Linked DNA regions of Homo sapiens. The protein of the gene in region 3 purifies or fractionates together with the protein of the main gene of each other region. This does not show direct contact. Each region holds a gene or a part of one and is shown on either strand. Other genes may lie near its edges.

The links.
Region 1: the proteins of LPP (region 3) and HSPBP1 fractionate together in Homo sapiens (co-fractionation; one large-scale study listed by BioGRID). This does not show direct contact.
Region 2: the proteins of LPP (region 3) and IPO11 fractionate together in Homo sapiens (co-fractionation; one large-scale study listed by BioGRID). This does not show direct contact.
Region 4: the proteins of LPP (region 3) and PPME1 fractionate together in Homo sapiens (co-fractionation; one large-scale study listed by BioGRID). This does not show direct contact.

The regions. Positions count from the first base shown.
Region 1 is NC_000019.10:55,267,385-55,275,291, reverse strand, and holds part of HSPBP1 (hsp70-binding protein 1), read left to right. Parts: intron 1-669; coding exon 670-894; intron 895-7,907. UniProt on the Homo sapiens protein: Inhibits HSPA1A chaperone activity by changing the conformation of the ATP-binding domain of HSPA1A and interfering with ATP binding. Interferes with ubiquitination mediated by STUB1 and inhibits chaperone-assisted degradation of immature CFTR.
Region 2 is NC_000005.10:62,413,964-62,421,870, forward strand, and holds part of IPO11 (importin-11), read left to right. Parts: intron 1-4,920; exon of another isoform or gene 4,921-5,050; coding exon of another isoform or gene 5,051-5,164; intron 5,165-7,907. UniProt on the Homo sapiens protein: Functions in nuclear protein import as nuclear transport receptor. Serves as receptor for nuclear localization signals (NLS) in cargo substrates.
Region 3 is NC_000003.12:188,885,208-188,892,622, forward strand, and holds the end of LPP (lipoma-preferred partner), read left to right. Parts: 3' UTR 1-5,464; downstream 5,465-7,415. UniProt on the Homo sapiens protein: May play a structural role at sites of cell adhesion in maintaining cell shape and motility. In addition to these structural functions, it may also be implicated in signaling events and activation of gene transcription.
Region 4 is NC_000011.10:74,232,286-74,240,192, reverse strand, and holds part of PPME1 (protein phosphatase methylesterase 1), read right to left. Parts: intron 4,293-7,907; coding exon 4,227-4,292; intron 1,061-4,226; coding exon 937-1,060; intron 1-936. UniProt on the Homo sapiens protein: Demethylates proteins that have been reversibly carboxymethylated. Demethylates PPP2CB (in vitro) and PPP2CA. Binding to PPP2CA displaces the manganese ion and inactivates the enzyme.

The DNA.
Region 1 (7,907 bases), on a different chromosome or scaffold from region 3:
GCCACGCTCTCCAATACCACTTTATTTACAAAAACAGGAGGTGGGCTGTGGTTTGCTGACCCTGGGGACATTCAGATTGTCACAAAGACCAGGATCAGTCCTGGCATTTAGTAGTCTGGAGCCTGGGGCCCTAATGCCCCAAATGCTGATGGAATCGAGTTGTACTAGCCTTGGGGGGACCTCTGGTTGGGTGTTTGGAGAGAGCTGCGTCCCTGTGGGAGCCGGCCTGGCTCTCCCGGCCTCAGCAGCTGTAGTGGTCAGCTTAGGGCCACCTTAGCCAAGCACCACAGACTACTGGCTTTAAAAACAGAAATGTATTTTCTCACGGCTCTGGAGGCTAGAAGTTTGAGATCAGGGTGTGGGCAGGGCTGGTTTCTCCTGAGCCCCCCTCTCCTTGGCTTGCAGAAGGCATTTTTTGTGTCCTCCCTCCATGTTGTCCCTCTGTGGGTGTCTGTGTCCTCATCTCTTCTTCTTATCAGGACGCCAGTCAGATTGCATTAGGGCCCACCCTAAGGACCTCATTTTACCTTAATGATCTCTTTAAAGATCCCATCTCCAAAAACAGTCACATTCCAAGGTACTGGGGGTCAGAACATCAACCCATGCATTTTGGGGGGCACGGTTCAGTCCCTAACATCTGGCCTCTCTCTGCTCCCCTCTGTGGCACAGACTTCTGCCAGCTGTCTGGCATGCACCTGCTGGTGGGCCGGTACCTGGAGGCGGGGGCTGCGGGACTGCGGTGGCGGGCGGCACAGCTCATCGGCACGTGCAGTCAGAACGTGGCAGCCATCCAGGAGCAGGTGCTGGGCCTGGGTGCCCTGCGTAAGCTGCTGCGGCTGCTGGACCGCGACGCCTGCGACACGGTGCGCGTCAAGGCCCTCTTCGCCATCTCCTGTGAGTGTCCGGGTGGGGCTGGGGACAGGGGTGCTGGCGGTGGGGGGGGGTGCCGGGTGGGCCCCCGGGATCTGCTGGGGCAGAGGGAGAGGCATCTCCTTCCCTCGTTTGTTCCCATGCTTGTTGGACCCCTGCACGGCTGAGTGCTGCGGGCAGAGTGAGTGGCGCACTCGGCCAAACCCCCTGCTAGCCAGGCAGCAGATGTGACCACTTCCCGGGGAGACCACCTGGCCCTCAGCGTGAGCGCTTTGCACACAGCAGTTTTTCAGCTGGGCACTGTTCACACTGGCGCTGGTTCACTCTCTCGGGGGCCGTCCTGTGCACTACAGGACATTGAGCAGCATCTGGTGGGTGGCCTCCAGGCCATGGAGAGACACTATCACCCCACCTGCCAGCGCACAAATGCCCCTAGATGTAGAAAGCCCCTTGGTCAGAACCCCTGCTGTACATGAATTCTTCTTCTTCTTTTTTTTTTCATTTAACCTATATAGAGACAAGACTTGCTTTGCTACCCAGGCTAGTCTTGAACTCCTAGCCTCAAGGGATCCTCCCGCCTTGGCCTCTGAAAGTGTTGAGGTTACAGGTGTGATCCACCATGTCCAGCCACAAATTCTTTTTATCCTAATGGCCTGTGAAGTAGGGACCGTTTGCATCCTCATTTGACAGGGGAAGAAACTGAGGTGTGGGCAGAGGGACACGGCCAGGTTTCTGCAGCTCCATAGGGCAGAGCTGGCCAGGACTCCCCCAAATACTGCCGCCTGGGACACAGGCACCAGGTCGGGCACAGGGACGGGACAAAAACCAACATCTGTGGGGCAGTTTCTCCATGCCAGGTGTTGACTCGCTGAATCCTTATGCACACCTGCTGAAGTTGGGCCCACTGTGTCTCCTCCACACGGGAGGGATCGGGCCAGGGGGTCTGGAGAGGACACACAGAGCCAGGATCCCAGCCTGGTGGAGCTCTTCGTATGTGCTGGATGCCTGCCTGCATGTGCTATACTAGCGCCCCAACTGGACTCTTTCCTTTTATTTTCTCTAACAGCTTTATTGAGATGTAATTCATAGGCCATACAATTCATCCTTTTAAAGTGTATAACTTAGTACTCTTGGCCAGGCGTGGTGGCTCACATCTGGAATCCTAACACTTTGGGAGGCCGAGGCGGGAGAATTGCTCGAGCCCAGGAGTTTGAGACCAGCCTGGGCAACATAGGGAAACCCCTGTCTCTACAAAAATTAAAAAATTAGCTGGACGTGGTGGTGCGTGACTGTACCTCCATCTACTCAGGAGACTGAAGTGGTGGGATTGCCTGAGCCTGGGAAGTTGAGGCTGCAGTGAGCCATGATTGCATCTCCAGCCTGCGTGACAGAGCAAGACCTGTCTGAAAACAAACACAAAAACCAGAAAAACAACGTAGTACTTCTTAGTGTATTCAGTGCTGTGCAGCCATCATCACTCTCTAATTTTAGATGTGATCAGACGCGTTCGGGGTGGTATGGCTATCGGCAGTCACTATCTAATTTTGGAACATTTTCTTCTTTTCTTTCTTTTTTTTTTTTTTGAGACAGAGTCTCGCTCTTGTCACCCAGGCTGGAGCGCAATGGCGCGATCTCGGCTCACTACAACCTCCTCCTCCCAGGTTCAAGCAGTTCTGCCTCAGCCTCTCAAGTAGCTGGGATTACAGGCGCCCGCCACCGCGCCCGGCTAATTTTTGTATTTTTAGTAGAGACGGGGTTTCACCCTGTTGGCCAGGCTGGTCTCAACCTCCTGACCTCAGGTGATCCACCCGCCTCAGCCTCCCAAAGTGTTGGGATTACAGGCGTGAGCCACTGCGCCCGGCCAAAATTTCAGAACATCTTCATCCTCTCCCCCAAGCAGAAATTCTGTACCCGTTAAGCAATCACTCGGCGTCCGTCCTCTCCCGCAGCCCCTGCAACATGAATCTACTTACTGCCTCTAAGGATTTCCCTCTCCGGGACATTTGTACAAACGGAATCCCACACCGTGAGGCCTTTTCTGCCTGGCTCCTTTCATATGCTGCAAGGTCCCCGAGTGGTGGCGGGTGGCAGTGCTGTGTTCCTTCCCGCGGCTGAATGTGTCCTGTTGCGTGGGTCCACCGTGCCCTGCCTCTTCCTCCGCCTGTCTGCTGACAGTCCCTGGTTTCCTTGTATCTCTGGGCTCTCGTGCTCCTGTGGACATAGCTGCGCAGGTGTTTTTATGGACATTTGTTTTCCGTTCTCTTGGGTGTATACCTAGCAGTGGAGTTGCTGGGTCATATCGTAACTCTACATTTAATCTGTTCGAGGTTGGCTTTTTTTTTTTTCTTTTTTTGTTTCTTGAGACGGAGTCTCGCTCTGTGGCCCAGGCTGGAGTGCAGTGGCGCAATCTCGGCTCACTGCAACCTCCACCTCCCAGGTTCAAGGGATTCCCCTGCCTCAGCCTCCCAAGTACCTGGGTTTACAGGCACATGCCACCATGCCCAGCTAATTTTTTTTGTACTTTTAGTACAGAGAGACGGGGTTTCACCCTGTTGGCCAGTCTGGTCTCAAACCCCCGACCTCAGGTGAGCACCTCAGCCTCCCTAAGTGCTGGGATTATAGGCATGAGCCACTGTGCCTGGCCTGAGGTTGGCTATTTTTTAATTCCAGCAGCCTATCTGGTCATTGAAATGGGGGCTGTGAGGGGGGTCCAACACCCTCTTTCTCTCCCTCACCCCCATGTATCCTGAGTCCTGGAATCAGTGTTGTGTTCCTGGCAGATGGTGGCCCCAGCCATGCAGAGGCTGGGAGGAGAACAGGGAGGGTTTGGGTAGGAGGAGATTCCGGAAGAAGGAAGCATTCTGATGAGGCAAGGAAAGGGGCACTTGGAAAGTCACAGCCAAAACTAGGGTGACAGGGACAGACAGACATGGGGCAGCTCGGCCACAAAGGGCAGAGAGAAGGACATGGTGTCCCGAGGGCCAGAGCAGGGTAGAGAGGGGCTGGCAGAGTTTTCTTCTAATAGCTTGCATTAAAAAAGAAGTCTTTAGGTCATCTTGGTGGTTCACACCTGGTCCCACCTACCTGGGAGGCTGAGGAGGGAGGATCATCTGAGCCTGGGAGGCAGAGGCTGCAGTCAGCTGAGATCGTGCCACTGCACTCCAGCCTGGGTGACAGAGTGAGACCCTGTCTAAAAAAAAAAAAAGTCATTACATATTTTTAAAAATCTGTGAGACAGTCACATCGTTCACCAGGTACAAAAGAGTACATAGCAAATGGTCCCTGTCCCCAAACCTGGTCCCCATTCCAGAGAAAACCACTGTTATACCTGTTTCTGCTTCCAGAGATTTTAATAAATCTGTAAGAACAAATGTGGGTGTGTGTGGTGTGTGTGTGATGTGTGTGTGTAGTGGGTGTGTGGCGCGTGTGTAGGGTGTGTATGGTGTGTATGTGGGGTGTTTGGCGTGTCGTGTGTTAGTGTAGCGTGTACATGGGTTGTGTGGTGTGTGGTATATATGTGGAGGTGTGTGTGGTGTGTGTGTTGCATGTGTATGTGTGTGGGATGTGTGTGCTGGGGGGATGTATGTATATGTGTGGGGTATGTGGGGTGCATATGAGGTGTGTATGTGTGGTGCGTATGTGTGGTGTGTGGATGTGCATGGCGTGTGTGGGATGTGTGGATGTGGTGTGTGTATACGGGGTGTGTGGTGTGTGCTTATGTGGAGTGTGTCGTGTGTGGTATGTGTGCACACAGACACACGGATTAATCTCGTTTCCTCAGATGTGCACGGCTGGCACAGGCCATCCTGACTGTGGCGCACCTTGACCTGCCTCTGTCCTTTTTTCTTAAGCAACAGTAGCTTATCTTTCCCCTTCCTGCGGGTGAGGAATGCAGCAGTGGCCCCTGCTGAGGAGGGCGGCTTCTGGCTTTGCGTCTTCATGAGGTTGCATGAGGTTGCATGAGGTTGTGGTCAGCCGTCAGCCGGGCCTCGTTCCCTGAAGGTCTCATTGCACTAAGCCCTGTGCGCTGCACCTCATTGATCCCTCACAATCCCCCTCTGAGGAAGGGGTGCTAGAGATGGGCTTCCACCATGGCTCGCCCCGGGGCTAGCAGAGTTTTGCTGGCAGTTGGCAGGAAGCTCGGGCTGCGTGAGCGGCCTCACCACGTGGTGGTCGGCTTCCCCAGCGAAAGTTGTGCACGATGCAGGGCAAGAGCTCTGGGAGCTTGGATGCCATTCTTTTTTTTGCTCGGGGGTAAAATTCACATGAAAATGTTAAAGTATACCATTCAGTGGCATCTGTCCTTTTTTTTGGTGGCTGCAGGGTATGCCATTGTGTGGCTGTCCAGTACCATTACTGGAGTTCCGTGCTGGGAGCCATTTGCAGGGTACGTCCCCTCAGCTCCTGCTGCCCGAGGCGGTGGTGCCACTGCCCTTCCCAGGACAGGAGGGGATGGACTCGCTCGCCCTCTGTGGAGCCACTCCAAAGTGGTTCCTTGTTACAGTCTACCAGAGTGGCACATTTATTACAATCGATGAACCTACATGGACACCTCATTGTCACCCAGAGTCCATAGTTGACACTGGGGCGCACTCTTGATGCTGTATGTACTATGGGTTTGGACAACTGTATCATGACATGGATCCATACTGTAGTATTCTACAGAGGAATCTCGCTGCCCTACAAATCCTCTGTGCTCCCGCTAGTCATCCCACCCCTGAGCTTTTTACTGTCTCCATAGTTTTGCCTTTTCCAGAATGTCATATGCTTGGAACCATGCAATCTGCAGCCTTTTCCGACTGGCTTCTTTGGCTTAGTAATCTGCTTTTAAGGTTCTTCCATGTCTTTTCTTGGCTTGATAGCTCATTTCTTTTTAGCGCTGAATAAGCGTAACTTTTTTAAGGGAGATGTGTGGGCTGCAGTGATGACTTTGGCTTTCTTTCCAAAAATGACGGCAGCCATACTGTGATCCCTGCCCCCAACTGCTGCACAGAGAAGAGGGTGAATGCGGCGAGGGTGGGTGGAAGGTGGGCGGTGAGCTGGGGGGTTATGGTGATAACCTAGGCAAGAGATCAAGGTTGTGGTAGGGAGCAGTGGTTCTCAAACAGGGACAATCGTGTCCTCCACAGGACATTTAGACAAATGTCTGGAGACATTTTTAGTTGTCGCAGCTGGGAGAGAGGGACTATTGGCATCTACTGGGTAGAGGCCAGGGATGCTGCTCAACATCCTGCAATGCACAGGACGGGCCTCCCAACCCAGAATGATCTGGCCCCAGATACCAACCGTGCCCAGGTGGAGAAACCCTGGCGTAAAGGGGACAGGTCTCTCCTGGGTACATTTTGAAGGTAGAGCTGACAGGCCTTGCTTACAGATTGAATGAGAGGAGTCTTTGTGTTTTCCAGTCCATGCATGCCTGTTCTTTTTTCTTTCTTTAATTAAATAACATCTGGCTGGGCGTGGTGACTCATGCCTATAATCTCAACATTTTGGGAGGCCGAGACAGGTGGATCACTTGAAGCCAGGAGCTCAAGACCAGCCTGGCCAACATGGTGACACCCTGTCTCTACTAAAAATACCAAAAAATTAGCCAGGCATGGTGGGGCATGCCTGTAATCTCGGCTACTCGGTAGGTTGAGGCATAAAAATTGCTTGAACCCGAGAGACGTATGTCGCAGTGAGCCAACTGCCACTGCACTCCAGCCTGGGCGACAGAGCGAGACTCTGTCTCAAAAATGAAATAAAATAAACTAAAATAAATAAATATGTAACCCAATATGTCCAAACTATTATAATTTCAATGTGTAATTAATATGGACTATTAATGAGACACTGTATTTTTTGTCATGCTAAGTCTTCAAAACCTAGTGTGTGCATTTTACAAATGAAGCACATCGCAACATGCTGAGTTTTCAGGGGTAGTGTGGAGTGCGCCAGAGCAACAACGTTGTGTGTGTTTTTCTTTTTTTGGTTTTCTTTTTGTGTGTGTGTGAGATGGAGTTTCGCTCTTTTTGCTCAGGCTGGAGTGTAATGGCGCAATCTCGGCTCACTGCAACCTCCACCTCCCGGGTTCAAATGATTCTCCTGCCTCAGCCTCCCTAGTAGCTGGGATTACAGACGCACGCCACCACGCCCAGCTAATTTTGTATTTTTAGTAGAGACGGGGTTTCACCATGTTGGTCAGGCTGGTCTCGAACTCCTGACCTCAAGTGATCTGCCCACCTCGGCCTCCCAAAGTGCTGGGATTACAGGCATGAGCCACCGCGCCCAGCCAACGTTGTGTTTAATGGAAAATATTTTACACTGCTTCAGTTTTTCACCTTAAGTTTAAATGAATGGAACTTAAATGAAATGAACAACTCTTTTCCTTAGTTGCACTGGCCACATATCAGGTGTTTAGTGGCCACAAGCTACTAGCAGCTTCTGTCCTTCTTGGCCAGCACAGGCCTAGAGCCTACCCAGGAGGGGGCACCTTACTGGAGGTGCACTCCAAAGGTCAGTTCTCATCCTGCTGGGAGTCCTTCCAGAGTTCTCATTGCCCTCTGGATAAAGGTCATGCATGCTGTGTAGCCTGGCTCTTTAGGCCTCAGTTTCCTCATCTGTAAAATAGAATTCTGAAAGCACACACTTCCAGGATAATTGTGAGGATTAAAAGATGTTGCGGACTGGGGACGGTGGCTCACGCCTGTAATCCCAGCACCTTGGGAGGCTGAGGCAGGTGGATTATGAGGTCTGGAGTTCAATACCAGCCTGGCCAACATGGCAAAACCCTGTCTCTACTCAAAATACAAAAATTAGCTGGGTGTAGTGGTGCATACCTGTAATCCCAGCTACTCGGGAGTCTGAGGCAGGAGAATAGCTTGAGCCTGGGAAGCAGAGGTTGCAGTGAGCCAAAATGGTGCCACTGCACTCTAGCCTGGATGATAGAGCAAGACTCTGTCTCAAAAAAAAAAAAAAGAGAGAGATGACACAGCCGGGCGCAATGGCTCATGCCTGTAATCCCAGCACTTTGGGAGGCCCAGGCAGGTGGATCACTT
Region 2 (7,907 bases), on a different chromosome or scaffold from region 3:
TGGTATTTTCTCTGTTTCTGCAGTAACCTAGCACAGGGTATAGTAGAAACAATTAATTATAGTAGTGGCTTGTGGCCATATATTATAGTCTCAGGGTAGGAGGGTGGTCTCCGCCCTAGTTGAACTTCTAAGGCCAAAGAGAATTTTCACCACAAACACATTTGGCTGTGGTAATGTTAGAGGTTTTAAACAAATATGTAAAGATTATCTGATCATTAATAGAACAATTTTTAGATTTTGTGATGTTTGAATATATTTGCATTTGGAATCAAACCAGAATGCAGCATGATCCTTGTAGGCATGTGGCTATTAAAATACACTGAAGATTTTTCCAGAAACAAAATTTTTTTTTCTCAGCAATAAAAATATTCAAATTTTGGGTAAGGTAATGTTTGATTATTTGGATTTTGACCTTTGTGTTATATATTTGTACCTGTGTGTGTGTATGTATGTAACCTCACTTCTAATTTAGTGTTATTGATGGTAATATTTTTTCCTTTCTTTATCAGCTTCAAATAGGGACTGTTAATTTCAGAGCGTTTAAGGAATGGCAAAACACATTTAGTGCTGGTGTGAGTCTGTAGTGTGTTTGGTTTGCTGACTATCAGACTTATTACAGATAAGTCCACAGTTATAAGCTTTGTAGAGCTTAAGTTGCATCAGTGTTCTTTACCCTTGCTACTCAAATTGTGGTATATAGCATCACCTGGGAGTTTATTAGAAATGCATGATCTCAGGCTCAATCCAGAGCTGCTGAATCAAAATCTGCAATTTTAACAAGTTATCTAGATGAAAGGAATGTTCAATAAATCTTGAGATGCACTACTTTGGTTGGTAACAGTTGAAGAACACTGAGGTAATGCACAAACCGGTATAAAAATTTATAGCATCATTTATTTTAATCTGAGGTGATCTTATGCTGATTATCCAGTCTGATGAAACTGAGGCCCAGAAAGGTAAGTGCCTTGCATAAGGTCACACATACCTAGATTTATAACCCAGATTCCAACTCATTCCAGTGCTTTTCTTTTGCTGGTTACTGTCAGAGCTTGTTATATTAAAAACGGACTAAAATTCATGAATGACAATTAGGTGTTCATTCAATAACAAACGTCTATTGGGTACTGTACAGGCAGCCTAACAATCCTGTGTGTCCCTGCTAACTGCTCCTGTTTATCATGGTGGCTATTAACCCACCACCTTTCCTCTTTATTTTTTTTGAGGCGGGGTCTCACTGTCACCTAGGCTGGAGTGCAGTGGCGTGATCTCTGCTCACTGCATCTTCCGCCTCCCGGGTTCAAGCGGTTCTCCTGCCTCAGCCTCCAGAGTAGCTAGGATTACAGGTGCCTGCCACCAAGCCTGGCTAATTTTTGTATTTTTAGTAGACAGGGTTTCACCATTTTGGCCAGACTGGTCTTGAACTCCTGACCTCCCTGAACTCCACCCACCTTGGCCTCCCAAAGTGCTGGGATTACAGGAGTGAGCCCGGCCCCGTCTTTACTTTTTTTTTTTTTTTTTTTTTGAGATGGAGTTCTGCTCTTTTTGCCCAGGCTGGAGTGCAGTGGCGCGATCTCAATTCACTGCAACCTCCGCCTCCTGGGTTCAAGTGATTCTCCTGCCTCAGCCTCCTGAGTAGCTGGGATTACCGGCATGCACCGCCATGCCCAGCTAATTTTGTATTTTTAGTAGAGACGGGGTTTCTCCATGTTTGTCAGGCTGGTCTCGAACTCTCGACCTCAGGTGATCCCCCTGCCTCAGCCTCCCAAAGTGCTGGGATTACAGGCTTGAGCCACCACGCCCGGCCCCCTCTTTACTCTTTACTGGATAAAGTTCCCTTCTGCTTCATAGAGGAAATGAAATACATTGAGTGGGAACTTCATTGCTTTCTGTTCTGTTTCACCTGCAAACATGAAGACCTCTATCTGTCCATCTCTAATGATATTCTGAGTTTTTTCTCCTTACGGGCAATATTTCCTTCATGTGTTTGCTAGGGCCGCCACAACAAAATACCTTATATTGGGTAGCTTAAACAAGAGAATTTTTTTTCTCACAGTTCTGGAGAGTGGAAGTCTAAGATCAAGGTGCAGATAAGATTGGTTTCCTGTAAGACCTCCATCCTTGGCTTGCAGATGGCCACCTTCTTGCTGCCTTTTCTCGTGGTCATCCTGTGTGTACATGCACCTCTGCTGTATCTTTCTGTTTTCTTTTTTTTTCTTTTCTTTTTTTTTTTTTTTTTGAGACGGAGCCTCGCTCTTGTCTCCCAGGCTGGAGTGCAGTGGCCCGCTCTCAGGTCACTGCAACCTCCGCCTTCCCGGTTCAAGCGATTCTCCTGCCTCAGCCTCCTGAGTAGTTGGGATTACAGGCGCTCACCACCACGCCCGGCTAATTTTTATATTTTTAGTAGAGACGGGTTTCACCATGTTGTCCAGGCTGGTCTCAAACTCCTGACCTCAGGTGATCTGCCCGCCTCAGCCTCCCAAAGTGCTGGGATTACAGGCGTGAGCCACTGCACTGGCCTGCTGTTTCTTTTTCTTATAATGGCATCAGTTATATTGGTTTAGGGCCTTACCCTAACAACCTCATCTTATCTTAATCACCTTAAAAACTTTATCTCCAAATACTGAGGGTTCGGGGGTTAGGGCTTCAACATGAATTTTTAAGGAACACAGTTCAATCCATAACATTCAGTTACTCCTTTTTCAACTAGTACTAACTTAACAAGGATTTAAGCATACCCAAGTCTCTTATTATCTTTTTTTTTTTTTATTTTTTTTTTTTGAGACAGAGTACTCACTCTGTTTCTCAGGCTTGAGTGCAGTGGTGCTATCTTGGCTCACTGCAACTTCTGCCTCCCAGGCTCAAGCGATCCCTCCACCTCAGCCTCTCTGGTGGCTGGGACCACAGGTGAGGCGCAGGCCACCATGCTTGGCTAATTTTTGAATTTTTTTTTGTAGAGATGGGGTTTTGCCACATTGCCCAGGCTTGTCTCAAACTCCTGGGTTCAAGCGATCCACTGGCCTTGGCCTCCTGAAGTGTATTGGAATTATATGGGTGAGCCACCGTGCCTGGCCTCAAATCAAGTCTTATCTGAAATATACGCTCCTTACCTTAGATTCTTAGATTCCTCTTCAGCTTTATCTATAATTATTTTTCTTAGTTTTTTTTTTTCTCCTTTTTTTAAGAGACAAGGTCTCTTGTTACCTAGGCTGGCCTCAAACTTCAGGGCTCAAGTGATCCTGCCACTTCAATCTCATGAGTAGCTGGTACTACTTGTGTGTGCCACCATGCCCAGCTTATTTCCTTTAAGTTTCTTGAAAGAATTCTCTATATTCATTTTCTTCACCTCCTTATTGGTTAATTTTTTTTTTTTTTTTTTTTTTTTTTGGTATTTTGAAGGCTGACAGTCCATAGCAGTCACTGAATTTGATGTAGTGGTGATCACCATTGATATCTTTGTTGCTAAATCTAATGGAATCTGTTTAATCATTTGCCATTTTAACTACTTGTTCGTTCTTGAAATTTTCTTCTTATACTTCTGGGACACCATATTTTCCTTATTTCCTTCTTAGGTTTTAGCCAGTCTTTTGTTGGTTATTTTTCTCTTTTCTCTGACCACTTTAGATGTTTGACTCTGAGGCACTACCCTGCTCTCTTCTGAAAACCTTCAGATAAAAATCCAAACTACGTAGTTTAGGAAATAAGGACTTCAATGCACACTCTTCATGAATGGTCTCATTTGTGACTTCAACTATTGCCTCTATTTTGATGACTCCCAAATCTGGCTTTTTAGCACAGGTCTCTCTTCAACGCTGACATATGTAGTTGTCTTAAAATACTTGACATTCATGTCAAAAACGTTGTGTATTTCAACCTTCCTGACATTGTTTTCCTCCTATGAGCCATGCAGGCACCAATCAGTTGGAAAAGCCCAAAATCTTAATTCTTTCCCCTTATTAACTTATGTGTAACCCCTCCTCCAACTCTCCAACTATCTAATTATTTTATTTCCAACTCTCCAACTAGCCATTATTTATTTATTTATTTCTGAGACAGAATTTCACTCGTAGCCCAGGCTAAAGTGCAATGGTGCAATCTCGTCTCACCGCAACCTCTGCCTCCCAAGTTCGAGTGATTCTCCTGCTGCAGCTTTCCGAGTAGCTGGGATTACAGGCATGCACTACCATGCCCACGCCTGCCTAGTTTTTTTTTTTTTTTCTTTGAGAGAGAGTTTCACTCTTATTGACCAAGCTGGAGTGCAGTGGCACCATCTCGGCTCACTGCGACCTCCGCCTTCTGGGTTCAAGTGATTCTTCTGCCTCAGCCTCCTGAGTAGCTGGGATTACAGACGTGCGCCACCATGCCTGGCTAATTTTGTATTTTTAGTAGAGTATGTTGGTCAGGCTGATCTCAAACTCCTGACCTCAGGTGATCCACCTGCCTCGGCCTTCTAAAGTATTGGGATTACAGGCATGAGCCACTGCACCCAGCCAACACATATCATATAGTTTAAAATGTAAGTGTTTCCAGTACAGTAAGCTATTAACAGTATAGTGCTATGAACAGCATTCATATAGTTAATAGCATTATGCAGAAAAATTAAGGATATCGGGAACATAGAGATTCTTGGTTGAGGAGTGAGCCCTTTTAGATTGGCAGTTAGTGGAGACCTCTTTAAATAGAGGACAACTTGAGCAGAATGGAATGCTGTCAAAGAGCAAGACATGCTTTTATCTAGAGACCAGAGCTTTCCAGCCAGAGGGAACAAATTGTACAAGGGATAAGATACATTTTATACATATTTCACTAAAGATGTTCACGTATTGTCTCCAAGTCTCTGTTAATATAGATAACTAGGTCATGCAGACAACCTAGTCCTTTGTCTCCTTATTCTTATATGCCTGTGCAGGGGTTTCTGTGATTATAGCACCAGGTGTGAAACTGCTGGGTCATAGAAGATACAGTCACGAGTTGCTTAAGGCTGGGATACATCCTGAGAAATGGGTCGTTAGGCAATTTTGTTGTTCTATGAACATCATATGAACAAACCTAGATGGTACAGCCTATTATACACTTGGGCTATGTGGTATATAGCTTATTGTATCTAGGCTATAAGCCTGTACAGCATGTTACTGCACTGAATACTGTAAGCAGTTGTCACAAAATGGTAAGTATTTGTGTGTTTAAACATGTCTAAACTTAGAAAGGTACTGTAAAAATACAGTGTAGAAGTAAAAAATGGTACATCTGTACAGGGCACTTACCTCGAATGGAGCTTGGAGGACTGGAAATTGGTTTGGATGAATCAGTGAGTGAGTGGTGAGTGAAAGTGAAGGCCTAGGGCATTATTGTACACTTAGGCTAAAATAAATTTATTAAGAAATTTTTTTCTTCAATAATCTTAGCTTATTGTAACTTTTAGTTTATAAACTTTTTGTCTCTGTTGCAGTAACACTTAGCTTAAAACACAAATACATTGTGTAGTTCTACGTTGTTTAAAACAGACGCAAACACACACATTAACTCAGGTACACACAAGGTCAGGATCATCAATATCTCTGTCTTCCACCTCCACATCTTGTCTCACTGGAAGGTCTTCGGGGGCAATAACATTCATGGAGCTGTCATCTTCTATGATAGCAATGACTTCTTCTGAATTATCTCCTGAAGGACCTGTCTGAGGCTGTTTTACAGTTAACTTTTTTTTTTAATAGGAGTAGTACATTGTAAAATTATGATAAGAAGTATAGTAGTGGGGCTTGGTGGCTCACTTCTGTAATCCCAGGGTTTAGGGAAGCTGAGGTGGGAGGATTGCTTGAGGTCTGGGGTTTGAAATCAGCCAGGGCAACATAGCCAGACCCCATCTCTACAAAAAGTAAAAAAATTAGCATGGCATGATGGCTCATCCCTGTAGTCCCAAGTCTCAACTATTCAGGAGGCTGAGGTGGAATGACTGCTTGAGCCCAAGAGTTCAACGTTGTAGTGAATTATGATGCCGGCATTGCTCTCTACCTCAGGTGACAGAGATCGTAACTCTTAAAAAAAGTAGGCTGGGCGTGGTGGCTCACGCCTGTAATCTTAGCACTTCGGGAGGCCAAGGCGGGTGGATCACGGGGTCAGGAGATTGAGACCAGCCTGGCCAACATGGTGATACCCTGTTTCTACTAAAAAAATACAAAAATTAGCCAGGCGTGGTGGCACACACCTGTAATCCCAGCTACTTGGGAGGCTGAGGCAGGAGAATTGCTTGAACCCGGGCGATGGAGGTTTCAGTGAGCCAAGATCGTACCACTGCACTCCAGCCTGGGCAACAAGAGTGAAGCTCCGTCTCAAAAAAAAAAAAAAAAAAAGTATAATGTAGTAAATGCATAAACCAGTAACATAGTTGCTTATTATCACTTTCAAGTGTTATGTACTGTACCTAATTGTATGTGCTCTGCTTTTATACAAATGGCAGTGCAGTAGGTTAGTTTACACCAGCATCACCACTAACGTGTGAGTAATGTGATTTACTACGACTTAGGATGGCTATGATGTCACTATGTGATAGGAATTTTAAAGCTCCATTAAAATCTTACGGGATCACTGTCGTATATATGTGGTCCATATCTGACTGAAACTTTTTTTTTTTTTTTTTGAGACAGGGTCTCACTCTGTCACCCAGGCTGGAGTGCAGTGGCACGATCGTGGCTCACTGCAGCCTTGACCTCCTGGGCTCAGGTGATTCTCCCATCTCAGCCTCCTGAGTAGCTGGGACTACAGGTGTGCCCCACCATGCCCAGCTAACTTTTTGTTTTTTTAGTAGTGATGGGGTTTCTCCATGTTGCCCAGGCTGGTCTTGAACTCCTGCACTCTAAGTGATCCACCCGCCTCAGCCTTCCAAAGTGTTGGATTACAGGCGTGAGCCGCCATTTTTATGTGGTGTGTGACCCTCTGTGTGTCCTGGTCATAGAATACACAAAATATATACTCAATTTCATTAGAGACAGCTAGATAGCTCTCCAAAGTTGTATTAATAGATATTCCCAGTAGCAGTGTTTAAGAGTTTCTGTTTCCATGCATTCTTGCCAGCATTGAATATTTTTGGACTTTGTAATTTTTGCTAGTCTGATCATAAAGTAGTTTTTCACTGTTTGGATTTTAAATCCCTGATAACCAGTGAGATAGCATCTCTTCTGATATTAATTAAACATTTAGCTCTTCTTTTCTATATATTTTCTGCTTACACCCTTTGTTCACTTTTCTTATATATTTGTCTTGTTGATTCACAAGGGTTCCTTGTATATTCTGTATAATACACCTTTGTTTTAGTTATGTATTAATAACATTTCTTCTCTTAATCTTCACCTTGTTAACCTTGTGTAGGGTATCTTCAATGACTCCATCAATTTCAGTCTTCAGTTCTGATGTAGTATAATTCATTAGGCAGATAGGCTGTGAACTTGATGTATTTTTGTTCTTTCTCAAGTCTAAAGCTAAAAATTCCCAGTTAATTTCACTTGAGATATTAATGGACAGCACTGAACAAAAGTAAAAGTGTTTAATCTTTCGGGAGTACTGGGTGGGGACAGGAGACTTACATTTAAAGTTCTAGAAATGTCACTAATGAGCCTGTGACCTTAGAGAAGTCAGTTTATCTCCTTATCTTTTGGCCACAGTGTCTTGGTCAGTAAAACAAAATACTTAAACTGTGTAGAGAACTGATATGGGTGGCTCCAAGGTGATAGGAAAATTATATTTATTTACTTGTTAACTTATATGGACTCACAACTGAGAGAAAAATTATTTTAATGATAAAATGTAGAATAGTGATTAACTGTGGGATTATTACTTGGCATACAGCACATGCATGTTTGAACAAATGGGTTTTTATAAATACAATGACAGGCTGAGCTCTTTATAGCAAGAAT
Region 3 (7,415 bases):
CATTTCTTCTCATTAAATCTCCTGCATTAAATCTAAGAATCCTTTAAAATAATCACACCTGATAAGTGTTTTATGCATTTCCCTCCCTGGAGTGTTATCATCCATCAAGCCAGTATCATCATCCACCTGCTTATTCCTTGGGACTAATGAGAGCCAAGTTAAATAGCAAATGACTTCTCACCCCTTCCTAGTCCTCATGCCTGAGGAATAAGGGCGACATTAATGGGAGCGGGAGAGTGGTGGCTTTGGTTGAGATGCACGTTCACAGACTAGAAAAGTGCCTCACCTCCATGGTGTATATGTGCCACCTTTTCTTAATCCAGTCTATCATTGTTGGACATTTGGGTTGGTTCCAAGTCTTTGCTATTGTGAATAGTGCCGCAATAAACATAAGTGTGCATGTGTCTTTATAGCAGCATGATTTATAATCCTTTGGGTATATACCCAGTAATGGGATGGCTGGGTCAAATGGTATTTCTAGTTCTAGATCCCTGAGGAATCTCCACACTGACTTCCACAATGGTTGAACTAGTTCACAGTCCCACCAACAGTGTAAAAGTGTTCTTATTTCTCCACATCCTCTCCAGCACCTGTTGTTTCCTGACTTTTTAATGATTGCCATTCTAACTGGTGTGAGATGGTATCTCATAGTGGTTTTGATTTGCATTTCTCTGATGGCCAGTGATGGTGAGCATTTTTTCATGTGTTTCTTGGCTGCATAAATGTCTTCTTTTGAGAAGTGTCTGTTCAATACTATGCAGCCATAAAAAATGATGAGTTCATGTCCTTTGTAGGGACATGGATGAAATTGGAAATCATCATTCTCAGTAAACTATCTCAAGGACAAAAAACCAAACACCACATGTTCTCACTCACAGGTGGGAATTGAACAATGAGAACACATGGACACAGGAAGGGGAACATCACACTCTGGGGACTGTTGTGGGGTGGAGGGAGGAGGGAGGGATAGCATTAGGAGATATACCTAATGCTAAATGACGAGTTAATGGGTGCAGCACACCAGCATGGCACATGTATACATATGTAACTAACCTGCACATTGTGCACATGTACCCTAAAACTTAAAGTATAATAATAATGAAATAAAATTAAAAAAAAAAAAGAAAAGTGCCTCACCTCCCTGTGAGGCTTGATGAATATTGTGGCCAGTGAGTGGAAAATGATTCTTGTCGAATAGACAGAGTATTCCCACCCCAGGAATGGATTAATAGAAGACACAATTTGAGCACTTCTCAGAATTATCTAGTATGCCTGAGTAGAGACTCACATGGGTGGAATCTGTGTTGTCTCATCAGAGGGAATAAAAAGACAATGAGGTGGTAAATGTGAAAAAAGCAGCCTTTTAGAAAAACATTATTTTCAAATACCTTTATAAATCATCTAATTTATCTTCACATAATATAAAGAAAAAACTAATAAAAATTTTCGTATTTCACTTTACATAATATGTTCTCCCATATTTAGGGATCATACAATTGTATTGTCTTCAAAACACACACACACACACATACACACACACACACACACACACACACACCCCTTCCAAGAAAGCTGATCCTTCAGAAAATAAATCTTATTTTTAAGCACTTGGGTTTTCAGGCCAGAAAATTAATAAATCCTAAACCTGACCCATTTTTGTAACAGCTAAAAAGGAGAAGAAAAAGCTAGTTAAATTTTGTGTGGATCCATTTATCTCTTAAAATATGCCAAAGCAATTTGAGGTGGGGGTGGAAACAGGTATTTATCTCTCATGCGTGATTCTCTCTTTATATTTCTATCTGTTGGGAAAAGGGTAAAGAACTATTCTTGGTCATTATTGATGTATTGTGTTGCCACTTTGTATGGTGCCTGCTGTGCTTTATCCCGAGGCATAGCAGTAATCGTTACTATCTTGACTCTTTCCTTCATCACAAGAGAGTAAATATGAAGTCTGAATGTCGTTCCTCACCCCCAAATTGTTTAACTCTGCTTCCAAACTAGTTTAAGAAATGCAAAATGGGAAGAGCTAGCTTTTCTTAGATACATTTCTTCCTTTTTTATTCTTTCTTGGGAGACGTTAAGTATAAAAGGGAAAAAGTCAGTTCCTTCTTCTCTCTCTTTCTCTTTGGGTGACAGCAATGCTCACTTAGTAATTATAAACTGGAAATAGGAGAGTAGCTTGAGCAGGTTATGATATATCTGCCCAATGTGTTTCATTCCTTCAAACATAAACTTTGAGAGTAAAAGAGATTTTTATAATTTAAATGCCAACGACAGGAATGGCCTCATGTTTTAACTTTCAAATAATAAATGGGGAGTTGGTATTTGGGCAGAGTTTGCATTTTACTAATCCTATATACTTTGAGCTTAGTTTTTAGAATTGTGTCAAATACATCAACATATCAGGATTATAGTGCCAAAAATAGTTAAAGTGCCTTGGTCCTCCCTCTGTAGGCAGCAAATTGAAACTAACATGGGACCATGCCATCCTTCTAGCATAATGGAGAAGTCTGAACTGAGGAGTATCTTTGATGAAAGACATTTAGGACCCTAGAAACTAAATCTTGTCACCAAGACTTTATAGTAAAGTAGTAGCAAAATTATTTTTAAAAGACTTTCTTCCTTTTACTACCCATTTCCTCTCTTGGGAAAGCTGATGAGCAAATTATCCAAGACTCATTTCTTTATTAGGCAAAGTCAGAATATTTCCCCTCTGAAAATCTGAATTATGCCCTCATTCTTTTTCAAGAAATATCTCAAAGAGCAAATAGAATTAAACATGACACTTGATTGTCTGATTATTTGGCATGTATAAAATTATCATGTGGCTTAATGTGCCTTAAGTGAAAATTTAAACTTAGACCTGAAACCTTTACAGTTGGATGTAGCGTTGAGCTTTTGCATGTTTTCTGTATAATAAACCACTTTTGTTTTGTTTGTTTTGTCTTTTAACCTACACCTTTATCATTACTCTAACAGATTTAGGGCTTCTCTTTCTCTACAGCTAAGTAAGGGAATATGTGCAATTATGAGACATACAAAAAAGGAAAGGGAAAGGACTTTCTAAGTAGCAAATCTGTGCCATGAAGTAGATGTGGCGTGAAGATACAGAGCCTGAGGATAGTAATTTTCCCTGAGCCACGCACACAGGCTTTTATTTCATGCCTTTTCTCTTTCTGTGCCGTCACCTTTGAGAAAAACGATTGCACCTTCTCCAAGTCTGCCTTTTTAACAGCTACAGTTAAGTTGGCAAGACTTCCCCAGCTCTGAATATAGCCATTTGCCGACTCCGGCCTCTTTGCGAGACTGACTCAAATCTGTGATCTTCTGTTCAGCATACACATCAGCAAAGTGAGAAGATGAGCACTAAATATAGGCTCTATTAACTTTACTTTTAGATTTACTGCCTTCAAAAAGTGCCTATTCTGAGCAACATAAACGTTATTCCTTACATATGTATGTACACACGGTACCCAGAGTCGTACTGTGCAGCCTTCAAAAACATACCATCAGAAAGAGTAGGTGCTGAGATAAGGAAACTTTGCCAAATGAAAGAAAGTCACTCACTTCCAATATCCCCTCTCAAGCGGCTACCGTGAAACGGGCTGCAAACACATTCCCTGAGCATCCCTTGCTGATACAGCTTCTTTATATTTATATCCTACTGGATGGTAGCATATTGCTAAGGTTTCCTGTACTCTGCTTCAAGGGAATGTAAGCTTTATGGCATTGAAACATTTAGGGAAAAAAAAGATGTTTAAGAGAATTAATAGAGCCGTAGTCTGTATTAGGATGTGTGTCATATGTGTGTTCTATAAACTAAGCATCGGTGGGTTTAGAGTGTTAAAGTGTCAGCACATTCCTTCTCCTTTTGTCTCTCAGGCTAACATGAGAGAAAATAGAAAAGTCTTGGCTGTGGGGATTGGAAGCTCAGGGGGCCAAATGTCCTTGCCAGATCCTTAGAGCATTACTTTGACTCCTAAAAATAGTAGTGTATGTTATTTGATGGCTTTTGTTTCCATAGTTCCATCACTGACAAAACTGTCAATACTGTTGATGGAGCAGCAGCATAGCCTAGAGTGATGCATTCTTACCCAGAGGTGGCAATAGGAGAGGGTCCATGTAAATAGGACGAGGTAGACAGTGCATGATTGTAGGAGAAGGGTTGAAGGGAGGACATGATTCCAAAAAAGATCGTTCTCAATGTGTCGTCTGACTCAACCAGCTGGCAGATTACACTTGCCAAGTCGTTCCCTTTCCTTCTAAGTCAGTTGGCTCCATATTCACTTGAATATGCCTCTGTTTGGGCAAAGCAAGATACCTCCACTTAACCTTTATCCAAGGAAGCTCTTGGTGTCCTCTTGGTCATAAAGTTGTCTCCTACCTAACCCAGTTTTACCAAATGGAAGTAAAAGGGGACAAACTATGGAAGATGGACTCCATGCCATTGCAGTCAGCCACCATTCTCTTTTCCATATAAGGAGCCCCATTACATAAGCTACGGGTGAGGTTGGAACAGCTATGTTTCATAATTTCAAGAGTGTGACCACCCTGCTCTAGTCATCATCATTGGATGAATCCAGTTGACTCTTTGGCAAAAGGGTGATACTTTTCACTAAAAATGCCTACTCTTCCTGTTGATGTTCCTTTTCTGTTTTTACCTTGTCCAATTTCCACACTAGTCATTTTTTTTATTTTTTAGAGGATCAGATTTTAGCGCTGGAAAATGAGTTCAAAAATTTCAGTGTAATGTCATAAGGATGTTGGGATACAGAGATTTTTTTTTTCCTTGGAAACAAATGGACTGGGAAGAAACACAGCATGGCTTTGCTCTGAGTTTCAATCTGATGATTATGACCATGGAAGATAGTCTTATGTAAAGGTTAAATGGTGTTTACAAGTGGATAGATAAGGCGGAGATGGTGAGAAGCCGGGTTTTCTCTATGCTAAATGTGTCTACTAAGAGCAGCACTTCCTACTAGCTAAGCACAATCATAGCCCCACCGTGATGAGCTGCTAGTCTGAATAACATTCCCTGACTTAGGGAAAGGCACACAAAAACATATAAAGAATATGTCTATTTTCATATGTGTGATACTGACAGAGCCATGGTATTCCTAAAATATAGGTTTCTCTTTTTTCTTGTATTCTTAGCAAATTGCATTTATTCACTACATTACAAACCATCACTGATGTATCCAAAATAGCACACATAGTTCAGTATGAAAATAAGAGAATAAAATCTGTTATAAGCAAGTGATTTAGGTATTTTCTTTTGTGTTTATGCATTATCTGACTATATTAAAACCTGTTTTTCTATTTACCTTCTATCAGTTTTCTCTACCAATTATGTTTTTTCAATGCTCTATAAGAATGAATATGGAAATTATATTTCTTTTTTCTGTAAAAGAGTTGCAACTACTTTATTATATTTAGAAATCCAATAAACTTCTTATTACATTTACTTGCCTATGTGTGGAATTCTTTTTGAGTTGGATAATCTCTGTTTCCTTTTCTTCTAACCCCCTTTACTGTGTGACTCATTTTTTACATCATTTGCTTTCCATATGGTCTTCTGAGAAACGGAATATCTCTCATAGCAAATATGGTGCCACAAGAGTATGAAAGCACCCACTCTCTTCCACTGTTAGCACAGAAGAACTTAAGGTCAGAGGTGTTCTAAAATTATTTGACCACTCTGTGTCTTGACCTTGCAAAGACATTTTCATTTTTAAAGCTGGATCCAAGTAAATGGGTCCCTTAGGGTGGGGTTGGGGTTCTCCATTTTCATCACAAACAAGTGGCTGACTTGTTCATACTTTTATTCCATCTGTATTACGCATGCTTTTCAAACATTGAGAATTTCCTCTGTACTAGGCATCTTGAGCAATACAGCTATCAATGACATATAGTTCCTTTCAATGAGTTTATAGTCTAGTTAAGCTGATAGATATGGATACAAATACCTATGGGGAAAGGAAAGGAATAACCACAAACAGGAAAAAGTAACTTAGCATGTTCCAGACTTTTCACTGTCACTCCATTTTCAATATCCTTGTGATTATCTTACCCTCATTTTATAGATGAAAATTCCAAGAGTGAGGAAAAAAGTTAATAACCCAAGATCAGCATTCATTTGCTGAGCCTTTTTTTTTTTCATTTTTTAAAGTAGCAGTTCTACAGAAGAACCAAGACTCCTGATACCCAGTCTATTGATGCTTAATAAGAGTGATTAGCACTACAGCATACGTGAAACTCACCCCACGAAAGTCAGAAAAGATTATCTGTTCTCTTTTCTACTTATCTCTCCAACATCACATTTCTGCCTACTAGTGCTGGGACATCTGAGAACTACAGGTGGGAAGACTCTGTACTAAAGACCACTATTTTAAACTGCCATACACAAGATCAATCTTTGAACAAACAAAGGGTAGGTATATCAATGGGACTTGTGGTACTTGTAATTTCTTACCAGAAAGTTGTAAACAAAAGAATACATGAGATGTAACCTTGTCTTCTCTTTATTCTTCTACAAAGAAGCTGTAAGAGGTAATCTTATCTTCCTTCTCCCTGTATTTCTCAAATTACTCTGTTTTTTCACCTACCCTTCTGCTCTGTTTTCTAATAGTATACATTCATTTGTTCTATTCAGAGTGTAAGAGCTAGAAGGGCCTTTAGAGATTATTTTACTCTGACTTTGTGAAGAAATACTAAGTCTCAGAGATATGAAAAGACTTATCCAAAGTCATAAAATATTTTAATGACAGGGCTGGATCTTGAGTCCTGGCCTCCTGACTCTCTGTCCATTGCTGTATACAAATGATTTGAATAATGCAGAAGAGAGTGGAAGACGCATTCTATTTATAATTTACATTTCAAGGAAAAAGAAATTTCAAATGAAAAAAAAACTGAGTGTTTAATGTCCAGATACCCTAATTAATAGAAATTCTAAAAATCATGTTGCAGGAAGAGAGAAAGCTGAGAAGGAATGAATATCAACAAGGCAACAGGAAGGCTGAGCAAAGAAGGTAGGCAACCATATAGTCAATTCTAAACAGACTGGAATAGCAAACAATTATTTTCTAAGTTGAGGGACTTAAAAAAGTTGAGCTAAAATACTGGACGATAGTGGAATGTAGGCCCAATGACTAGAGTTAAATCTTTGTAAGATTTTTGTTGATTTTGGAGAAGACTGGTGCTGTTGATTATCTTTACATTTTTAAGTTATGTATATATGTAAATATTTCAATGGCTGCCATCTAAAGAAAACAAATATATAACTGCAAAATCAGTAGAAAGGAGAAATTGAATTGGGGAAAAGCAGAAATGAAACAATTTTTTTTTTTTTGAGTTGGAGTGTGCCCTTGTCGCCCAGGCTGGAATGCAATGGTACCATCCCAGCTCACTGCAACTTC
Region 4 (7,907 bases), on a different chromosome or scaffold from region 3:
TCAAAAAAAAAGTGCTAAGGTGTGTCATACAGACTTTCAGTGCTGTGTTGGAAAGACAGTGATACTAATTGAGGTCAGAAAGCTTCCCCAGGGAAGTTGGGTGTGGTGGCACGCACCTGTAGTCCCAGCTACAGCTACTGGGGAGGCTGAGGTGGGATGATCACGTGAGCCAAGGAATTCAGCCTGGGCAACATAGCAAAACCCAGTCTCAAACGAAAAAAAAAAAAAAAAAAATGGAAAGAAAATTAAAGAGCTTCCTCAAGGAGAAAAACTTTGAAAGACAGATGGACAGGGTAAAATCTGCATGAGCTTAGGCCGGGCATGGTGGCTCACGCCTGTAATCCCAGCACTTTGGGAGGCCAAGGCGGGTGGATCACGAGGTCAGGAGATTGAGACCATCCTGGCTAACCCGGTGAAACCCCGTCTCTACTAAAAATAACAAAAAAAAATTAGCTGGGTGTGGTGGCGGGCGCCTGTAGTCCCAGCTACATGGGAGGCTGAGGCAGGAGAATGGCGTGAACCCGGGAGGCGGAGCTTGCAGTGAGCCGAGATCGCGCCATTGTACTCCAGCCTGGGTGACTGAGCAAGACTCTGTCTCAAAAAAAAAAAAAAAAAAAAAGATCTGGATGAGCTTAGAGTAGACTGGTAGGAAATGGAATTTTTCTCATGGGAGGAAACACAGGAACAGAAGAACAGGTGAGAAAGCAGTCTGTTTTAGGGGAGGGTATATAGCGTAAGTTTTATGTTCCAATTGGTCAGAGCTATCAACAGTGCTTTACATCTTATAGTTAAGCTAAGTATCTCTTATGATAGTGTCTTGGCTCCCTAAAATACCTAATGGCAAACAAAAAGAACAATGTTATCACCCCTTCCCACCCACACACAGTTTGAACCATTCCATACCGCATCTTTTCAAGAATGAATGTTTTTACCCACCTCCATGTCATCTTCCTTTTTCCTCTTGCTTATAGACTCACTTCCTTCCTCATCTTCTTCTTCTTCCTCTATGATTCCTTCCACTATAGATTTTGAGCCTTCTGGACTTGTAATTCCTTCACACCTAGGTTTTTTTAAAAAAGTGCTATTACACACCTCTTTCCAATACACAAATTATCTCAGAGATACTCATACTTACGGCCTTTTATAATCAAATGTTAGCTAAAACTTAACAATCATCCTGGTAGGAGGATAGAATTGTGCATTTCCAGGGCTGTGGAAAATCATGGCCAATGTATAACTATTCTCCAAGGGCTGGTTTCCAGTTCTTGCACCAATACTGACCCATAGAAAGGGAGCAACCACTTCCTCAGGCATGAGTTTTATTGGCATAATCTTATATAATCTTCATAACAATCCTATGAAGTAGCCCTGAAGAGTTAAGAAAATTGTCCAGCATCACCTAACTCATAAGTGGTTAAGGCTGGGATGCAAATCCAGGCTCAACTAACTCCAAAACATGGTGCTTTTCTGCTGAACCCTGCTTATAGTAGAACAAGGCTCAAACAGAATGATAAAAGGCCTCACTTTTTAATTAGCTGACAGAAACCATCTGAACCAACCAATTATCATTGTTGTTTTTCTCTTAAAAATTGCATCTCTTTTTATTATATTCTTTGGTAGAAAAATTATTATTATATCAACAGCTGGTACCATACTTCCTTTAGAGAGAACTTGATGGAAAAAACACATTGACAAGCTCTGAAGGTAAAAAAATCCCAAGGGCCTGGGCAACAGCTAGTGCCAAGGTTTGCTCTGTATGATAGAGAACAATCTGTTATTTTGCCCTTGACAAAGACAGAGAAGGAAAAGGAGAGAGAACAAGCAAGATAAAAAGAGACTGGGATAAATTCAAAAGTCAGCGGTAGATTTTTAAGAATGATAACTTCTCCCTTTCTGTCTTCTCTGCCAAACCTTCAGTGAAGTGTAAGTTCACAAATGTTTTGTTAAGTAGGTGTTTTATATGAAACTTGTGCCAAGTTTCACATGTAGTATACAGTATAGATGTGATAAAAAAAAAAAAAACAGTGTAACAAAGAAACATATGCTTTGAATTTCTATAGCCTGTGGATTAGGAGGTTCAAGGCAATTTCACCTGGATTATAAGGGGCAGGAAAGTTCCAGCTATCTATGTGACAGTTAATACACATGCACATACACACTCTCCTACACATAGGTTTACTTATTAAGAGAAAACATCACTGGAAATAAAATTTTAAAATCACTCAACTATCTGCATATATGCCATGTAAAATGCTTTACTACTGATTAGACAAATTTGAGGTCTCAAAATATTTAGGAATTGAAAAGTGGGCAGTCTCACAGGTTATTCAAAGTCTTGCATTTTGACTGCCTGATATTTCTACTGAAATTGCCCTTTTAGGCATAAAACCATAAGATAGGCCTTGAAGTCAAATACACAGGAGTTTGAATCTCAGCTATGTCATCCACTAGCTATGTGATCTTGGGAAACTACCTCTCTGAACTTCTATTTCCTCATCTATAAAGCAATACTTATCTTAAAGAGGTATTGTAGGGATTAAATGAGATAGTGCAAATGAATTAATGAATCTAGGTAATAAACATCAACGGCTCCTGACATTAAAAAAAAAGAGACAATTGGCTGGGCATGGTGGCTCACGTCTGTAATCCCAGCACTTTGAGAGGCCGAGGTGGGCGGATCATGAGGTCAGGAGATAGAGACCATCCTGGCTAACACAGTGAAACCCCACCTCTACTAAAAATATAAAAAATTAGCCGGGCATGGTGGCACATGCCTGTAGTCCCAGCTACTCAGGAGGCTGAGGCAGGAGAATTGCTTGAACCTGGGAGGCAGAGGTTGCAGTGAGCTGAGATCGCGCCACTGCACTCCAGCCTGGGCGACAGAGTGAGACTCTGTCTCAAAAAAAAAAAAAAAAAAGACAACCAGACATTATGTACTTCCTGATGGCAGTACGCAACATCACCTATCAAGTATTCTTGCAAACAAAACACCTGAACCCGATGAAGCTTCTAGATTTAACTATTTACACAGAATATAAGGAACAAAGGAATATGTTAAATTATGGCCTGAGAATTCAATCAGCAAATCCAGATCATGGGAAATTCTATGGGGCAAACAAGGTTTCCTCAAGAAATAAATTGCAAGGAATCAAAAAAAAGAGGGAGACAGAAGTGGAACCTTAGATTAAAAGATGCATGAGAGGTGGATCAACCAATTGCTATCTACTTATTTTGATTTTGACTTTAATTGTAAAAAATTATTTATGAGACAATCAGAAATGTAAATATTGATTAGATATTTGATGATATTAAAGAATTGCCAATTTTTTTACGTGTAATAATGTCATCGTGATGATGTTTAAAGAGCCCTTATTTTTAGATCATATGAAAATCTTGCAGAGGAAATTATATTTGTTTGGAATTTGCTTCAAAATATTTTGTGACTAGGGGAAATACATAGGGGCACAGATGAAACAAATGAGACATGGTTATGGGTTAATAACCATTGAAAATGGACAATGGGAACACTGGGGTCCATCCACTGTATCACTCTTCTTTTATATGTGCAAAATTTTTCCATAATATAAGGTTTTAAAAATGAGACAGTGCATATAAAATACCTTGCACAGTGCCTGGCAAATAGTAAGCACTCAAAGCCATTATCATTTTCATCTAACTTCTGTCTGTTCTGTTGGGCAACATTTTCTCAATTCATCTAAAGTTTATTTTGTGACTATACAGCAATACCCAGAATGCCATGTAATTCTATCAGGAAAGATCAATTGGGCTAAATAATCTTAGCTCACTCTTAGAATCTGGCTTTCACTCAGGCTATGCCAGAGCTTTTTTATTATAATTCCCTCACAGCCAGGTTTGGCTTAGAAGGAGACTGTTACTAGAATGAAACTCAGCTGCTATCACTAAGGTTAACATAATTTGTAATGTCTATGCTCTGGGATTTGCTTTTTAACACGCAGAGTTTTGCTAAGGTAATCCAGTATTAAATGAGGAGGAAAAAAAAGAAAGGGAAGGAAAGGAAGGAGAGAAAGGAAGGCAGGCGAAAGAAAATCTATGTCTGTCCCAACTGAACTCACCTTTAAAATTATTTAAAATAATAAAGGCATTTACCGGAATGGTAGAATTGGTGTAAGACAAAAGAAGCAATCTGTAATTCCCTCACCATGTTTCCGCCTCTAACCAGACCAAGGGGGAAGAGTAAGACCTACTGTTTGACTTGGCCAACCATTGAGACACGGGCAGACTCCAGATTTCGAATCTGGCCACTCTTCACACTGGGAAAGAAAAGAAAGGAAGAGAGAAGGTTATTCAGTATCTATTGTATCACATCATTGGAATCAAATAAATAATTCTACAGATTATGTGAGACCTAATAAAAAGTAGTGATCACCAGTGTTTCTTACTATAGAGATTGCCACTATTACTCACCTGGCTACATGGTTTTATAAGTAAAAATTAAGTAAAAACATCATAGCCATTTCAGTTCTGCAGATATTTATCAAGAGGATACTAGGTGCCAGGCCTGTATTCAAAAAGCACATAATTCGGTAGGGAGAAAAAGACACATATAATGTTAATATAATGAGGCAAGGTTCAAAGAAAGCACTTGAACATGAATGAGGAGGTCAGAGAAAGCTCCCCAGAGGTCACAGCTAAACTGAGGAGTATAGATAACAAGTTTAACCAGAAAATAAAAGAGGTTGGTTAGAGCATTCTAGGCAGAGGGCACATTATGTACAAAGGTGCTGTGATGTGAAAGTCGGCAGGATAATGATTTTAGAGAACTGGGTGCAAGGAGAAGCAGGGAGGAGATAAAAGGGGAGCGTGACAGAATAGGATTGGAAGGCAGGCGCCAGCTTCTCCAGGGCCTTGTGTGCCGTGCTACAGGGCTTAGGCTATCTGAATAAATTAGTCTTCTCACATTTGTCCACCTAAGTACAACTAAGGCAGAGCAAAATGACTGCATTCCCAGGGTGAACTGGAAACACTGCCTGAAGCAAGCCACTAGGAGAAAGCACTTCTTTAAATCTCATTTCTTAGTTTAAAAAATCATTCAAAATTTTAAAGCCCCTCTCCTCAGATAATGACATGATTTCTTACTTTAATGGTAAACCGAGGCAATCAGAACTATTACCTCATCTTTTAACTACCAAATGAATCCACAAATTCACCAATACTTGTAATAATATACTCTGCCTTGATGCCTGTTTAATACATGAAATATCTATTCCTATCAAGGCCAACCTTGGGCACTAGTTCCCATCCCCTCTTGCTTCTGAAAAGATACTCTTTCTTTCAGTTATCCTGTCTCTCTTCTGTGTCACTTTTTTTCTCTCGTGGATGTCACAAGCATACTCCATTATCCAGCCTTTAAAAACATTCCCAATGCCACATTCACTACTACCTATTACTCCATTTCTCTGCTCTCCTATACAGCAAAGCTCCTCAAAAGAGTTATCTTGCTTTCTCTACTTTGTCACCTCTCATCCTTTCCCCAACTTATATATGATTTTTATATCCCATTTATTTTCAGATATTTATTTTGTCAAGGTCACCTCTATCATGCCAATTCCAATGGTCATTTCTTGGTCCTCATCTTACTTGATCTCTCTGCAGCATCCGACACAGTTATTCTCTCCCTCCTTCTACAAACACTTAATATACTCACCTGGTTTTCCTTTTATCTCATCAACTGTGCCTTTTCAGTTTCTTTGTTGGATCTTCCTCTTCTTCCCAAGCTCTAAATATTGTGGAATATCCCAAGACTCAGTCTTGGATCTTTTTCCTATCAATATCAAGTTCCTAGGTCTTTACATTCAATCTTTCACTTTTAAATATTAACTATGTGATGACGATTCTCCAATTTATCTCTAGTTCAGCCTCTTCTAACTAGTATATACAACTGCCTACTTAACATTTCTACTTACATATGTAATAAGCATTTGAGTTTATCCAAACAAAACTGATTCTCTGCCCCTTATTTGCTCCCATATCTACCTCTTTCTGTTTCTACCATTCACCCAATTGCTTGGGCTAAAAACCTAGAAGTCATCCTTAAGTCCCTTCCTGCCCTTCCCCGTCTCTCTCCCAACATCCAATCCATAAACCAGTCCTGTCAGTTCTACCTCGAAAATACATTAAAAAATGACTCTCTTCCTCTGTTGCCATCCTCGTCTATGTTTACCATTATTACTCTCCTTTACTATAACAGTCTCCTAACCAACTTCACACCTCATTCCCCACTTCTTCTATTTGATTTTCCTCAGAACAGCCAGAGTGGTGTAACCAAGATGCAAATTTGTATCTGTCTGACCTCAAAGCCCAGGTTTCCCCTAACTTTTTTGTTTTGTTTCGAGACAAGGTCTCACTCTGTTGTTCAGGCTGAAGTGCAGTGGCATGATCATAGCTCACTATAACCTTGAACTTCTGGGCTCAAATGATCCTCCCACCTCAGCCTCCTGAGTAGCTGGGACTATAGGCACATGCTACCACACCCAGCTAATTAAAAAAATATATATATTTTTTGTAGAGACAGGGTCTCGCTATGTTGCCCAGGCTGGTCTCAAACTCCTGGCCTCAAGTAATATTCCTATCTCAGCCTCCCAAAGCACTGGGATTACAGGTGTGAACCACCACACCTGGCCTAAAGCCCAGGTTCTTAATGACTATACCCCTGCTGCCTCTCATTAGGAAACCTATGAGAGCAAAAGCAGTAAATCATTGGCCTTATATTTCAACATAAAAAAAAATCTAGAATAGCCAAAATGGCCATCAGTCATAAACTTGATTCAGATATCCAGCAGAATAAAAAACAAAATTACCAAATACCTCATAGTATAATAATTTTCAGGTTCAGAAAGATCAATGACTCTCATGAAACCCAGAACATCTTAACATTTAACAAACAGAACCCTTATTCTATCCTGTATCTGGCAAAAGAAACAAGACTACTTTAAGAGAAGGCCTACCATGATACCCAGGCTGCATTAGGTATATCCCCTGGCTTCCTTCATTGTGTTATGTTTATGTGTTTCCTTGTTTGCATCCCCAGTTTTTTGATGATAGGAACTGAGCCTGATTCATCCCCCAGTTCTTAGATCAGGTACTGACACATCTTAGGCACTAGAAAAAAAAATTTACTGAATAAATTTTTAGAGTTCGGAAAAAGGGCCAGGCGTAGTGGCTCATACCCATTTATCCCATGACTCTGAGAGGCCGAGGCGGGCAGGCAGACTGCTTGAGCTCAGGAGTTCAAGACCAGTCGAGCCAACATGATAAAACCCTGTCTCTACAAAAAAAAAAAAAAAAAAAAAATCAAATAACAAAAATTAGCTGGGCATCGTGGTGCACAGCTGTAGTCCCAGCTACTTGGGTGGCTGAGGCAGGAGGATCGCTTGAGCCCAGAAGGTCAAGGCTGCGGTGAGAGCTGTAATCATGCCACTGGACTCCACAGCCTGGGCAACAGAGTGACACCCTGTCTCAAAAAAAAAAAAAAAAAAAGTTTGGATAAAAGTTGGATGGGCTTTAGACAACTGAGCCAAGTCTAGAATAACTTTCTCACTTGTTGTTACTGCGGAAGCAGGCAGGGCACCTGAGATACAAGCCAAGCTGGCAGCAGCTACATTCTTGATGCTATCTGCCCAAGATAGATCTTTGATATTTCTGTGAGAACAGGAATCCTGCATCACAGTAGTGAACAGGAAGTGGTAGAAACTTCACCAACACAAACATCATTCTGACAAGCCATATTCTTGCATAAGACCATTTGTCCTAGGAAAACGCCTAGGATATATTTACCAAGTCCTAAATTTCCACTTGATATCTGATTCAGTTAACAGATATATTCTGCCTGCTAGGGCAGTATGCCATATGCTATATGAAAGTAGAAA